2 linked regions of the Homo sapiens genome follow. The protein of the gene in region 1 interacts with the protein of each later gene in a pairwise test. Each region holds a gene or a part of one and is shown in the gene's direction. Other genes may lie near its edges.

Region 1 (8,154 bases):
ATGCGCAAGGCCAGAGCAACTCACATAAAACCAGTTGACATACATAACCCTGTGTACAAATGGAGCAAGTTTGACTTGCCAACCCAGTAGCAGTTGGGAAACTATCAGTTTAACAGAGGAAGCCAGCAGTGTCCTCTGCCAGTTGAGGGCTTTGTCAATTTACAGCATTATAGGATATCCTTTGCTGTGAACTGCCTCAGCTTCCTCTTGCGTGAAGCATTCTAAGTTGGGAGGCTTTCTTGGGGTGTGGAGGTGATCAAAGACAGCTGTCACCTAGCTGCTGTGATCTGTTTCCTCAAAACAAAGAGGCAGAGAAAGAACCTTACTTAGGGCACTTTGCATCTAAGTGTTACAATTATCCATTCATCATTTACTCAACAAGTGTTGAGCACCTGCCATGTTCCAGGCACAGCACTGAGCTTTGAAGATACAGTGAGAACAGTCCTGGCAAGATCTCTGTCCTTACAATGCATGAGGTGGACAGTAATCAGCCAAACACAAAAACTAATTCCAACAGTACTATGGTTGGGGCTGTTAGTGGCCCCGTGGCAGGCATGAAGTCAATGGTAAGTGTACAGGCATTCCTTCCTATCCTCACTCTCCCTCTCCCAACCCCACTGTCTGTTGTTGGGGACCAGTTAGATTCAAATACCTTTTCAAATGAATCCCTCACTATTTGAACTCCCACATTTACTCTCTGAAACTCAAGGACACGTGGATTTGGTAATACTGTATCCCTCAAAACTCAAACTTGCTCTCTGAATTCTGATATTTGAATGCAGTAACCAAGTCAATTTGGATAAAGAGGGATGGGTATAAAGATAAGTGAATGGGCCAGGCACAGTTGCTCACACCTTTGGGAGGCCAAGGCAGGCAGGGTGCTTGAGCCCTGGCATGCGAGACTAGCCTAGGCAACATGATGAGACCCCATCTATACAAAAATTAGCCGGGTATGGTGGTGCAGGTCTGTAGTTCCAGCTACTCAGGAGGCTGAGTTGGAGGATTACTTGAGCCCAGGAGGTTAAGCCTGCAGTGAGCTGTGATCATGCCACTGCACTCCAGCCTGGGCAACAGGGAAACCTTGTCTCAGAAAAATAGTAAGTGAATGGCAAGTGAAAGTCTATAGGTTATACTGTCTCATAGGCAGGAAAATGGAGGTCGAGGATGTTCTGCTCAGTGATGACTGATACTGAATGAGGCGTGCAGGTCTGTGTGCAGCAATATAAAACAGAACTCATTAATGGAATACAGCTCACATTTGGGACTTTGATAGTGTGCCTGTCATTTAGCCCTTTTCTGATACTCTGTAAGACAGACTGGACCTTAACCTGCTCATTTGTATCTGACTTTGCCAGCAAAGATTAACTTTGCAGAACTGTGTCCTTTCGAAGAGGCCATTTTGGGGAATAAAAAGGTCTCCATGCTTTCTGAGCTCTTCTCCAGGTAGGAATCTCTGGATGACCCAGACATTATCCCATTGAGTCCTTCCTCTTTCCGGGCAACTGTTCTGTACTTGCCCAACTCCAGAGACACAAGAAGCCAGACTCAATTCTGCCTCATGGCTACGAACATTAATCACAGCATCTTCCTGAGTCTATCAGTGTGTGCATTCTATCTACCCCATTTGAGAGTTAAAGAGACCTTGATTTGTAGAAATAATAGTTGCAATCTAGTTGTGTCTAGCAGGCGAGAGCCAGTGGGACATGTGTGTTCTTGCAGCAGAAAAGGGGAGAGCTCTGCTCCTATTTCTACAGTGGGAGGCTACTATAGTGGACATCTGGTGTTTCTGCTGCTCAGCCTCCATATACTTCTCTCTTGGTAACGTCACCTCCACCTTGAGTGGCATTGTTCAAGTCACTGGATGAAGTCTCACCCGAAGCCATTATTACCTCTTAGCTTCTCACTTCCTAAAGTAATACGTTCCTTTCATCACTAAAGCCATTTGGAATGGGTTTTTCTAACTTTTGTTATTGAAAGAATCCCAATGGATACAACTGTCTATTCTTTCCCCCCAAGTATCTCTGGATTTCTTCTGGCTTCTCTCTTCTTTTTCATGCAACTAGTAAATTGTTTCTGAAATATAGATAAAGCAATTTCTTAGTGGGAAAAGAGTTTAATAAATAGGAATCAAAAAAAGAGAGAAGCAGTTGTCTCCAAAGTCTTTATGACTGTTTTCATGACTGTTTCAATCATTTAAAAACATTTATTGAGTACCTTTTGTGTATCAGACAGTATTCAAGATGGTGGACATGGCTGTGGTTCACCACATGAACAAAGTTTTGGCTCTCCTTAAGCCCACATCCTAGAGAGGGACAGGGGCAGGGAGACAAACAATAGGCAAATTAATCAATCAGGGAAATCTTGGGTAGTGAAAAGTGCTTGCAGAGTTAAGCAGGATGTTGCTATTTGGGCTCTGGTCAAGTAGAGAAGGATACTCCTCCTCTTCCTTTCATGAAATGCAATTAACAGCCCTGGACAGAATGCATGGAGAAGCTAACTGAGGATTCTAGAAAAAAAAAAAAAGGAGCAGGAATATTTGGGAAGGAAACCAGAATTCAAAACACTACTAAGCTGTTGGTGAGTTTCCCATTTTCTTTCCTCTGGTACCTGTCAGCCAGCGTCAGAGACCACCTGAAACCCAGAACTGTACACAGGATGCAGACAAAGACATCTCCAAAAGAATCCATGTTTCTGGTCTGAGGAATGGGAAAGAGAGCCCCAAACAGTCAGAGAGAGTGTAGAAAATCTCTGTTTTTTGTTTGTTTGTTTGTTTATTCTTTCCTTCCTTAGCCCCTGTGCAATCTCGTGACAGTGGTGGTGGCAATGGAAGTAGCAGCCAGGCAGGTACCTGGAACTCTGAGAAAGGGGAACCTTTGTCTCTGATCAGAGGAACCATGATCCTAAAAGCATGGGGGGAATAATTTTCACATTTGTGTTTCTCTCTCTCTCTCTCTCTCTCTCTCTCTCTCACACACACACACACACACACACACACACACACACACATTGCTTTGGTCCTGAAGATAGACCCAGTCAGAAGAGATGCACAGCAGAGAAGGAAAATGAAAACCCTGGTCTTTAGCCAGAAGACCAAGGCATATCTTCATTTCTTAATATACTAATTGCTTCAGAAGGTGGAAATGGCTCAGGGCCTCTCAGCTTAAGAGACTAAGGGGTTATGGGTTGTATTATTTTCTCCATTTCATAGATATGAGCCTAAGAAGGTTGTTTTTCTTCTTACTTAAACTTTTCCTACTATGCCATGTTGTCCATGGGCAAGTCAAAGGTATCCTACAGCCTGTAAGAGTGGCACAGTGCTTATTTGCAACCTTTAAGAGAGGTGGCAAGATGTGGGATTCATGGAGAAATCTCTCCTTTGCTTGGATTAATCCTGTAAACAAGGTGGTGTAGGTGAGACTGGGGTTGGCAGGTGGGATTAGGGTCTCCCTTACTTCCTAGTTTCCGTAGCCTGGGAAAAAGGGATGATCAGTCTGGTTTGAGATCCACTGGGGGGTTCATTGCCTTTCTTTGCAATGCCTTTGGTCTTAGCTTCATTTGTCCAAACTCCTCTCTCCCTTGGCTCTCCCCAGACCAGGCAAAGGCCAAGCTGGCTGGTCTCCCCACCTGTGGCCCTGAGGGCAGGACCTGGCATTCACCGTTTCTGCTAATGAGATCAAGACATGGCCTCTTCTAATTACTCCAGCCCTCACACAATCTTCCCCACATGCTCTCCACACCAGGGAGCAGCAGGGGGCAGGAAGAAGGGACCCTAACCTGGAGCATCCTGAGCAGACTGTTTCAGGGCGGGTCGGGAAAATGAAGGTTCGCCAATTCAAAGGTGGAGGGGAAAATGGTTCAGCCTTTGGGACTTGTATTTGGTGTGAAAGGAGTTGCTTGCCTCTGGGTCACAGCCCTGCATTCAGCTCCCTGACTTGCCTAGGAGTCAGGAAGAAACTTCTTGGTCTCAAGCCCAGTTAGGGGCAAGGCACTGGCTGGAAGGAAGGCCAGGGAAGGAAGGAGGTTGTCCACTAGAGGCAGCAGCCAGCCAGCCCAGCCCTTCTCTGGTGCCTGCCGGTGTGGTCCTCTCCCAGAGACTGGGGGGCCTTCATCTGCCCCATGAGGAAAAGAGGAGTGGAGGACCATGGAAAGGGATCCAGAAAAAGAAGGAAACACCAAGTCCCAGGGGCATGAGCTGGAAGGGAGGGCTGCTCCTCCCAGGGGAGGCTGGGGACTGAGAGCTGTCCCCAAGAGTGGAAAAGGAGGGAGCTGGGCAAGACCCAGCATTGTTAGTAACCAGCTCTGTGGTCTTGACTTGACCTCACTGATTCTCAGTCTCCTCACTTGGAAAAGGGCAAAACAGCCACGTGCAGGCCGTGGTGGGCACCCGGGCTGTCTGCAGATAGCTTGGCTCATTGTTGGTCCTCAGTACGCAGCCCTCGTAGCCAAGCAGCTTGGGCCTACACTCTGGGCCCAGGGGAGTGGCTGTCGCTGGCATCCCCTGGAATAACATGCTCCGGGGGTCAAAGATTCCTTAGCTGGAAAGGTCTAGGAGGAGACTCCCGCTCTGCTCCCTCCTGCACCAGCGCTGTGCCCCCCGCCGGCCAGGCAGAGCCATCCGATGCCGCTGGGCCGCCCACTGAGGATCTGCTGGCTGCAGCGAGTGGAAGGACCTGCTCGGCTGGAACGTTTTTTTTTTTTTTCCCTCCCAGGCGACGTCCGATGGGTGTGTCGGGCAGGAGGTGATATTTGACAGGCTGCGCGCGGGCGAGCTGCCGCGGAGCACCCGGCAGGGGCTGACAGCATGGCCTCGCCCGACCCGCCCGCCACCAGCTACGCCCCGTCCGACGTGCCCTCGGGGGTCGCGCTGTTCCTCACCATCCCTTTCGCCTTCTTCCTGCCCGAGCTGGTGAGTGCGGCACCCCCGACCCGGGCCACCTGCAGAGAGGGAGGGGGAGACCGGCCTCGGACCCAGACCGGACCGAGAAGAGAGAGACCCAGACCGGACCGAGAAGAGAGAGGGGCAGCAAGCACAGGGGCCACCTGCAGAGAGGGGGGGGGAGACCGGCCTCGGACCCAGACCGGACCGCGCCGAGAGAGACCCAGACCGGACCGAGAGCGGGGAGCGAGCACAGGGGCTGCGGTGGCTGCCAGCCTCCCACCGGGCGCACAGCGGGGCGCAGCTGTACTCAAGAGGCAGATGCCACTCGGTGCCCCGTCTTATGCCGCCAAGGGGGTTCCTCCCTCCAAAACAAAACCCACTTGAGTGTGGAGGCCTGGGGGGACGTCGCTAAAATATCCAGGCTTCCCAGGGAGATGTTGCACATGAATTTTAATTACGCGGCTTCTTTTGTCCAACTATTTGTGCCTTTCTGGTTTGAAGTGAGGAGACTGTGTTTCCCTCTGAGAGTAGGTCTTCCAGTGTTTTCTTAATTGTCACGTCCGCTGACTTTGAACTTTGACTTTTGTGGGGTCTCCCACACCAGGTAGCTATGGCAACATCTGCCATAAAACAGTCGTGTGCGGCACCCTGGTTGCAAATGAGAACCTGTCGCTGTGTTACTCTCTGGGGCGCCCTACGACTGAGTCGTGGCCCTGATCCCTGGGGATCCTGCCTGCTCCCATCTGCAGAGCTGTGCGTATGCAGCGTTCCGCACTGCACAAGTTCCCTCGGAACTGGCTGGTACCACATCCTCTTCACGGAGGAGCACAGTCAAGCCTGGGGTCCAATCAAGGCAAAGGAGTGTTTTCTTTTTCCAGCACCTTCTGAAGTATCTAGCTTGTGGGTGGTATTTTCTTACCTGCCCTGAATTTGGCAGTGCTGTCCCTGAGCAGGGGGGAAAAGATAGAAAGTGCATCTACTTTTCAGCCCTTCTCATTCTCGTCTTCTGCTTGCAAAGTTGGGCCCCCTCAAGCCACTTTTAGGCAAACTGGCGAACGGGTTAGCCATTGATGGCGACCAGAAAGAGAATCAGGCAGGGTGGGCCTAGGATCTGAGTGGCTCCAGCTGAAACCCCACCTAAGAGGCAGGTTTCTGCCAAGGCTACCATCCCCAGCACAGCGTGGGCATCCTGCCAGACTGATGACATAACCGTGCTCTGATGAGTCCTACGTGCCAGGCCCTGGGTGTGCCCCTCACCTTGGAGCAGCTGCATGGGTGGCTGGGGTACTGGTTGACTCTGCCTCTTTTTATTGAGCCTGTGGTTCATGTCAGTCCTGCAAGCCCCTGGTGACAGGGCACTGCCTCCTGGTGGTTTCCTGTCTGCCGGGAAGAGACTCATGAGCATTTCCTCCCAACAAGTGGATGGTGGCCTCAGCAAGGAGGGACCATCTGAACTCTCCAGGCCAAGGAGGGGTCCAGGCCTGCCACCAAGAGTTGGACCTCAAAGAACAGGCATTTACAGGCTGGGGGGAAAGAGAGGGAAAGGCCTAGAGGCCAGGGGAGAAGTCCTGGAAGGAGGCTAGAGGCACGGAGTTTCTGGAACCAGGACAGCACCCAGGGTGAGAAACATGAGAGGTCATGTTGGCCGCACCTGCCCTGCTCCTGCCAGTGAAACTCCTGGAAGAGCAAAGTGCACGCTGGTGTTGGGCTCTGGGGCCTTACGTGTTGTGGGGGGTGAGGGGCTCAATGACAATCAAAATTCACATTGGCCCAATTTTCTTCATTTATTTGTACTGTTAAGTAACGTGAGATTTACAGTAAAGCTGCAATAATAGTAGAGAAAGTTCTGTGTACTCTTCCCTCAGCTGCTGGTAATGCCTGCATCTTCCGTGGTACAACTCTTGAAATCAGGAAACTAACACTGATACTGTGCTATCAAGTACTCTATAAACCTTACTCCAGTTTTGCTAATTTTCTCACTAATGTCCTTTTTCTGGTCCAGGATCCCACATGGCACTTAGTTGCCGTATCTCCTTCATCTCCTTTAATTTGGGAAAATCTGGGTCCTTATCTTGACACTTCTGAAGAGTACTGATTAGGTTTTTTTCTTTTTTTGTGCTTTTGAAAAATTTATTTTTCCATAAATTATTGGGGTACAGGTGGTATTTGGTTACATTAGTAAGTTCTTTAGTGGTGATTTGTAAGATTTTGGTGCACTCATCATCCATGTATACACTGCACTACATTTGTAGTCTTTTTTTTTTTTTTTTTTTTTTTTTGAGACAGAGTCTCGCTGTCGTCCAGGCTGGAGTGCAGTGGCGCGATCTTGGCTCACTGCAAGCTCCACCTCCCGGGTTCATGCCATTCTCCTGCCTCAGCCTCCCGAGTAGCTGGGACTACAGGTGCCCCCACCATGCCCAGCTAATTTTTTTTTTGTATTTTTAGTAGAGACGGGGTTTCACTGTGTTAGCCAGGATGGTCTAACTCCTGACCTCGTGATCCGCCTGCCTCGGCCTCCCAAAGTGCTGAGATTACAGGCGTGAGCCACCGTGCCTGGCCCATATTTGTAGTCTTTTATCCCTCACTCCTCTCCCACTCTTCTCCCCAAGTCCCCAAAGTCCACTGTATCATTCTTATGCCTTTGTGTCCTTATAGCTTAGCTCCCACATATCAGTGAGAACATACGATGTTTGGTTTTCCATTCCTGAGTTACTTCACTTAGAATCATAGTCTCCGAGCTCATCCAGGTCAGTGCGAATGCTGTTAATTCATTCCTTTTTGTGGCTGCATAGTATTCCATCATATATATGTATATATTTATATATATACATATATATATATATCACAGTTTCTTTATCTACCCATTGATTGATGGGCATTTGAGTTGGTTACACAATTTCACAATTGTGAATTGTGCTGCTATAAACATGTGTGTGCAAGTATCTTTTTTGAATAATGACTTCTTTTCCTCTGGATTGATACTGAGTAGTGTGATTGCTGGATCAAATGGTAGTTCTACTTTTAGTTCTTTAAGGAAACTCCACACTGTTTTCCATAGTGGATGTACTAGTTTACATTCCCACCAGAAGGGTAGAAGTGTTTCCTGTTCACCACATCCACACCAACATCTATTTTTTTTTTGATTTTTTGATTATGGCCATTCTTGCAGGAGTAAGGTGGTTTCACAATGTGGTTTTAATTTCCATTTCCCTGATCATTAGTGATGTTGAGCATTTTTTCATGTTTGTTGGCCATTTGTATATCTTCTTTTGAGA
Region 2 (7,448 bases), on another chromosome or scaffold:
GGGACCCCACCCAGACTCCAGCCCAGGGATTCCCTTCCCAGACCCTCTCTCCTGACTCCACAGTGGTCATGGGGGTAGGGCAGGACCACTGAGTTAGAAGCATGGCCAGGGCCAGAGAGGGTGAGTCTAGTGCCTTGTGTGTGTCCCTGCCCCTTACTGCTGTGTGTGTGTGTTGGGGGCGGGGATGCTCCATTGTCCCCAGAACTATTTGTCTCCACCCCCATCCAATAGTCCTGTATCTGAAACCTAAGAGGGCTCTCTTCAGGTTCCTCAATTCCAACATAGACATTCTCCTGCCCCAGAGTGCAGACTTGGAGGTCATATCTGCCCAGGTGATGTGGACAGGCAAACCCCCTATTAGAGCCTCAATTTCCTCAATAGCTAATGCCTAGATCCCCTGTGGTAGGCAAGATATCCTCCTCCCTCCTCCCTCCTCCCTCCCTCCTTCCTCCTCCTCATCCTTCTCCTCCTCCTCCTTCTTCTTCTTCCTTTTTGAGATGGAGTCTCACTCTGTTGTCCAGGCTGGAGTGCAGTGGCACGATCTCAGCTCACTGCAACCTCCACCTCCAGGTTCAAGTGATTCTCCTGCTTCAGCCTCCTGAGTAGTTGGGATTGCAGGCGCCCACCACCACTCCTGGCTAATTTTTGTATTTTTAGTAGACACGGGGATTTCGCCATTTTGGCCAGGCTGGTCTCAAATTCCTGACCTTAAGTGATTCACCTGCCTCGGCCTTCCAAAGTGCTGGGATTACAGGCGTGGGCCACAGAGACCAGCCAAGGCAAGATTCTTCTGCTTGCAAGTACAACAGACCCCACTTCAAACTAGCTTGGGCAAAACTAAAAGGAAGTTTCTTGTTTGTGTAACTGACAAGCCCAGGGTTAGAACAACAGGTTCAGGTATGGCTTGGAACCAGGGTCTCAAATGATGTCTCCAGGACCCAGACTTCCTCTCGGGTCTGATTTTCTCAGCACTGCCTTTGCTCTCAAGTAAATTCTTCCCTGTCACAGCTCCCATTACATCCTCCCATTGTGGCAGCCCTAGTGAGGGCTGGAAAAAAAAGAGAATGCTTTTTCCCCCGTGGTTAAACCAATAAAAATCCCAGACCAGCGTTTCATTGGCTGGATCTTGCTCAAATGCCCGCCTCTCTGCCCAATCTTAGACTCTGGTTGGCTGGGTCTGGATCATTTGTCCACTGTAAACCAATCCCTAGCTTATGGTTTGCTGGATCTAGCACACATTTTCTTTCTTAAAAGAAAATTGAGAATGTTACCCTATGAAAGGGACGGGTGCTGGTCAGGCAGCTTTGCAGATGTTTCCCACATGACATGATTGCTTGTGGGCCTCTGGTTTAGCGTGACCTTTTTCTCAAAGGAAGTCCAGAGCCTGGAGCCGCGTCTCAGCCCCACCCAAGCCCGGGAAATGTGCAACGCTGTGGCTCCACCCCCTGTGCCTGTCCATCAAGGCAGAGCCCACATCCAATTGGTCCGTCTGCTCCATTAGAAGGCGGTCCTATAGCTCAGTAACTGACTTCTTTCTAAGACCAAATGGAGCAGCTGGCATGAAGTCATTATCAAATTGATCTTTCTTGGAGACACAGGATTTGGCAATATTTTAGGAAACAGAACTTTATCCTCACCAGATCTCGACGCTCATTTCTCAACATTCAAGTTGTCTGAAATTTAACCACATATTTTTAACCAAAACATCATCACTTTCTGCACATAAGACAGTCTTATACTTGTTTTTTCTTCTTTTCTTCTTCCTTCCTTCCTTCTTTCTTCTTTCTTCTTTTTTCTTTTTTTTTTTTTTTTTTTGACGGAGTTTTGCTCTTGTTGCCCAGGCTGGAGTGCAATGGCGCGATCTCGGCTCACTGCAACCTCCACCTCCCGGGTTCAAGTGATTCTCCTGTCTCAGCCTCCCGAGTGGCTGAGATTACAGGCGCCTGCCACCACGCCCAGTTAATTTTTGCATTTTTAGTAGAGACAGGGTTTTATCATATTGGTCAGGCTGGTGTCTCTAACTCCTGACCTCAGGTGATCCGCCCGCCTCAGACTCCCAAAGTGCTGTGATTACAGGCGTGAGCCACCACACCTGGCCAGAAAAAAATAAAAATAAAAATGTATGCCTGTAATCCCAGCACTTTGGGAGACCAAGGCTGGAGGATCAGTTGAACCCAGGAGATCAAGACCAGCCTGGACGGCATATTGAGACCCTCATCTCTACAAAAAATAAGAAAAATTAGACTGGGCCACGGTGGCTGATGCTTGTAATCCCAGCACTTTGGGAGGCCAAGGCGGGTAGATCACGTGAAGTCAGGAGTTCGAGACCAGCCTGACCAACATGGGGAAACCCCGTCTCTACTAAAAATACAAAATTAGCCGGGGGTGGTGGTGCATGCCTGTAATCCCAGCTACTTGGGAGGCTGAGGCAGGAGAATGACTTGAACCTGGGATGCGGAGGTTGCAGTGAGCTGAGATAGCGTCATTGCACTCCAGCCTGGGTGACAAGCACAAAACTCCATCTCAAAAAAGGAGAAAAATTAGCCAGGTGAAGTCGTGCCCACCTGTAATTTCAGCTACTCGGGAAGCCGAGGACGAAGGATTACTTGAGCCAGGGAGGTCAAAGCTGCAGTGAGCCATGATCACGCTGCTGCACCCCGGCCTGGGCAACAGAGTGAAACCCTGTCTCAAAAAAAAATTATTAAAAAACATTTAAAGAGACAGGGTCTTGCTATGTTGCTCACGCTGGTCTCAAACTCCTGGCCTCAAATGATCCTCCTACCTCAGCCTCCTGGGTAGCTGGGACTACAGAGCGAGCCACCATACCCAGCTACTTTGTGCCTTTTGTAACCCCAGTTTTCAAGATCAGATAAACACAAAGTGAACTAAGACACCTTCTAGACAGAGTGCGGGCATGTGAACGCATGCTTGTGTCTATTTTTCTGAGTGTCACAATGCAAATAGTATGCAAATGAGTTTGTGATGTGTGTCCGTGTGCAGACCTGTGTGTGTACATGTGTGAGAGAGAGTATCTGGGTAGATAAGCAGATGGATGGATGAGAATGAGAAACCTGGAGTTTCCAGGTGCAGAGGAAACTGTTCCTCCAGGGTTCTTTTTTGAGACAGAGTTTCCCTCTTGTCACCCATTCTGGAGTGCAATGGTGTGATCTCCGCTCACTGCAGCCTCCGCCTCCCAGGTTTAAGCGATTCTCCTGCCTCAGCCTCCTGAGTAGCTAGGATTACAGGCGCTCGCCACCACGCCCAGCTAATTTTTGTATTTTTAGTAGAGACGGGGTTTCACCATGTTAGCCAGGCTGGTTTCAAACTCCTGACCTCAGATGATCCACCCACCTCAGCCTCCCAGAGTGCTGGGATTACAGGCGTGAGCCACCGCACCCAGCCTCCTCCAGGGTTGTATAAAAGCAGGGGATTTGGGGAGGGAGGGAAGGATGTGGGTCTGTCCTCAGTCCCAGATGTGGGTGTGGCGTTCCAGTGGTTAGTTCCCGTTGCCTCACATCTGTGCTTTTCCTCCACGGGGACTTGTAGAAGTAGAAGAACTTCTTGGGGGTGGAGCTGAGGGGTGGAGCTGAGGCTGGAGGGAGGAAGGTGTGGGGGGACCCAGGGGTCCTGTCTCCAAGCCTGGTTGCTCTTACGCGAAAAGTTGGGACACTGAGGTGTCACAGCTTCTCTTTTGAAATGGAGAGGAGGTAGGAGGGTGAGGTCCATCCAGGTAGACACAGACACACACAGAGACCACAGCTTCCTGTAACATTTCCGAGTGTCGAATTCCATCTCCCGGTCTAGAGGTTTTTCTTCTTGGTCCTTCCTGAGACCTCTTGGCTCCCAAGAGCCTCTTGATCGGGGCAGGAATGAGGGTGCCCCAGGGTGCGAGAGTCGTGGATCCCTGAAAAGAGGAGGCTGCTCCCCCTCTTTCTTCCCCCCACCTCCAGATTTCCTCATCTGCCCACACCTTCCGGTGGGCGGGGACGTGTATGGACAAATTTGCGGGCTGGGGACCATGGAAGTGGAGGAAATCTACAAGCACCAGGAAGTCAAGATGCAAGCACCAGCCTTCAGGGACAAGAAACAGGGGGTCTCAGCCAAGAATCAAGGTTAGGGAACTCGAGGTGGAAGGGAGGGGTTAAGAAGGAGAGATTGGGGGGCCGGGGGCTTTTGCTCATGTCTGTAATCCTAGCACTTTGGGAGGCTGAGGCGGGAGGATTGCGTGAGCCCTGGAGGTGGAGACTGGCCTGGGCAACATAGGGAGACTCTGTCTGTAAAAAATAAAAATAAAAAAAGAAGGAGAGTTCAGATGGGAGAGGTAAGGGGTCAAAGGTGGGGGCCGGGGGCTCCTTCCCCTCCAAGATGTGTGGATGTGTGTGTGGATGTGTGTGTGGTGTGATCACTCAAACTCTCACACACCCGCTCCACTTAACCAAAAAGCAGATTTTAGCTTCTCACTCCTTATCTTTCACCCCCTACAATTTATTGAGTGCAAAGGGTTGGGTAAAACAAGATCCCGGATCCACTCTCCACACCACAGAGCTCTGAGCAGATCTCCAACCCCTCCCAGGTGCCCATGACCCAGACTATGAGAATATCACCTTGGCCTTCAAAAATCAGGACCATGCAAAGGGTGGTCATTCACGACCCACGAGCCAAGGTGAGCAGACACCCACCTGCTCACATCCCATCACCTTGGGAAGGGGCAGGTGGGCGGGCAACTGCAGGGCCCCCGGGGCTGCGTGGAAGGGAGGAAGCGATGGGGAAGGAAGAGGTGACAGCTGTTGACGTGCTAATGAGGTCTGTTGATGATGACAATGTTGGGGAATGCTGGAGAGGGGGTCTGTGATGGTGACGGTGTTAGATCGCTGAGGGTGGCTGGTGGTGGCAGTGTTGTTGACGATGATGACAAGCTGCATGACCACAGCTGCTGATGGTTTTGAGAGGAGCGAGGTGTCCATGGTGTTAGAGACAGTGAGGATGGTTTGAGTGGTGGTGCTGGCCCCTCAAGGTCACTTTGCTGCCTCTTTGCTCCAGTCCCAGCCCAGTGCAGGCCGCCCTCAGACTCCACCCAGGTCCCCTGCTGGTTGTACAGAGCCATCCTGAGCCTGTACATCCTCCTGGCCCTGGCCTTTGTCCTCTGCATCATCCTGTCAGCCTTCATCATGGTGAAGAGTGAGTACTTCTTGGGAGGAGGGTGCTGGGGGGCCTAGACTTTCTCCCTTGTCCTTCTCTCTCTCTCTCCCTGGGTGCTTCAAGGATTTTCCTGCCCCTCCTGAACAGATGCTGAGATGTCCAAGGAGCTGCTGGGCTTTAAAAGGGAGCTTTGGAATGGTGAGCGGAGGGTCTGAGGGAGACCCGTGGGGTCATGGTGGGGGTCTGGAGAGGGATGGATGCACAGACACCCCTGTTTCATGCCCTCAGTCTCAAACTCCGTACAAGCATGCGAAGAGAGACAGAAGAGAGGCTGGGATTCCGTTCAGCAGAGCATCACCATGGTCAGGAGCAAGATTGATAGATTAGAGACGACATTAGCAGGTGCCTGTGTAGTCTCGCCTTCTATGGGGGTTATTTGTCACCAATGCCCGGAGCTGAGCTGGGGGCAGGGGATTCAGGGGAGGAGAAAGCCGGGGTCCTACCCTCCCAAAGCTCAAGTTGTGGAGGGGCGATGGGTGTTACCATCTGGGTTGCTCTGTGGGTATTGAAAGGCTCCTGGGAACCCCAAATCCATGGGCTCTGCTGTACCCCAGGGTGGGTGTGGGGCAGGGGGGGTGCTTCCAAGGAAGGTGGGGGCTTTGTTTGAGGCTCCACCGCAGCTTGACTTATCTGTTCCCACCCAACCCTCCCCGCCCCCTAGGCATAAAAAACATTGACACAAAGGTACAGAAAATCTTGGAGGTGCTGCAGAAAATGCCACGTAAGTTGGCGCCCCGACAGGAGGTGGAGGAGGGTGGGTGGGGCTTCAGATTTAGCCCCAGCTCCTCTCCCAGGGGCGGGATCTGCCTCACTGTGGGTCTCTCCCCATCCCCAGAGTCCTCACCTCAATAAATGAGAGGACATTGTGGCAGCCAAAGCCACAACTTGGAAGATGGGGCTGCACCTGCCAACGAAGACGGGAAATGACCCCCCCCCCCCAGCCTAGTGTGAACCTGCCCCTCGTCCCACGTATAGAAAAACCTCGAGTCATGGTGAATGAGTGTCTCGGAGTTGCTCGTGTGTGTGTACACCTGCGTGCGTGTGTGTGCGTGTGTGCGCGTGTGTTCGTGTATGTGCGTGTGTGCGTGCGCGTGTGTGTGCATTTTGCAAAGGGTGGACATTTCAGTGTATCTCCCAGAAAGGTGATGAATGAATAGGACTGAGAGTCACAGTGAATGTGGCATGCATGCCTGTGTCATGTGACATATGTGAGTCTCGGCATGTCACGGTGGGTGGCTGTGTCTGAGCACCTCCAGCAGATGTCACTCTGAGTGTGGGTGTTGGTGACATGCATTGCACGGGCCTGTCTCCCTGTTTGTGTAAACATACTAGAGTATACTGCGGCGTGTTTTCTGTCTACCCATGTCATGGTGGGGGAGATTTATCTCCGTACATGTGGGTGTCGCCATGTGTGCCCTGTCACTATCTGTGGCTGGGTGAACGGCTGTGTCATTATGAGTGTGCCGAGTTATGCCACCCTGTGTGCTCAGGGCACATGCACACAGACATTTATCTCTGCACTCACATTTTGTGACTTATGAAGATAAATAAAGTCAAGGGAAAACAGCGTCGCTATGGGACCTGTTACTGGGGCAAGGGGAGGGGTTTTGGGACCTGGGGAGAGGGAGAGTCTGCACGTGACAATGACCCCGGGGCACCAGGGTGGGCGAGACTGAGTGCCCTGCGTGAGTACCTGTGCATCTGTGAATGAGTAACTCATTCCCTGTGTCTTCCCTGTGTCCCAGAGTGGGTGCCCCTGAGCATACAACATCTCCCTGAGTGTACCTGGGACCACGGATATATACAAGCCCTAAGCGTGTACCCACGTGTGTAATTGTGCCCGTGAGTGTATCTATGCCATTGAGCATGTATCCATGAGTGTACATGACCCTAAGGTACTATGTCCACCGCTCATGCATGCACTTGATTTGTTGTTGTTGTTGTTTGTTTTTGTTTTTTTGAGACAGGGTCTCGCTCTATCACCCAGGCTGGAGGGCAGTGGTACGATCATGACTCATTGCAGCCTCGACCTCCTGGGCTCAGGCGATCCTCTTGCCTCCGCCTCCCGAGTAGATGGGATTACAGGTTCACACCACCACACCTGGCTAATTTTTTTTAAAGAAGTGGGAGTCTAGCTATGTTGTCCAGGCTGGTCTCAAACTCCTGGCCTCAAGTGATTCTCCCACCTCCGCCTCCGAAAATGCTGGGGTTACAGGCGGGAGCCACCGCGGGCCACATGGATGCACTTG

The links. The genes of interacting proteins can lie anywhere in the genome.
Region 2: the proteins of MALL (region 1) and MCEMP1 interact in binary tests that used the Homo sapiens proteins (3 or more experiments, as listed by UniProt).

What each region holds. Positions count from the first base shown.
Region 1 is NC_000002.12:110,112,440-110,120,593, reverse strand, and holds the start of MALL (MAL-like protein), read left to right. Parts: upstream 1-4,771; 5' UTR 4,772-4,801; coding exon 4,802-4,906; intron 4,907-8,154.
Region 2 is NC_000019.10:7,673,064-7,680,511, forward strand, and holds MCEMP1 (mast cell-expressed membrane protein 1), read left to right. Parts: upstream 1-4,026; 5' UTR 4,027-4,057; coding exon 4,058-4,112; intron 4,113-4,573; coding exon 4,574-4,663; intron 4,664-5,040; coding exon 5,041-5,178; intron 5,179-5,286; coding exon 5,287-5,337; intron 5,338-5,427; coding exon 5,428-5,541; intron 5,542-5,860; coding exon 5,861-5,920; intron 5,921-6,034; coding exon 6,035-6,051; 3' UTR 6,052-6,766; downstream 6,767-7,448.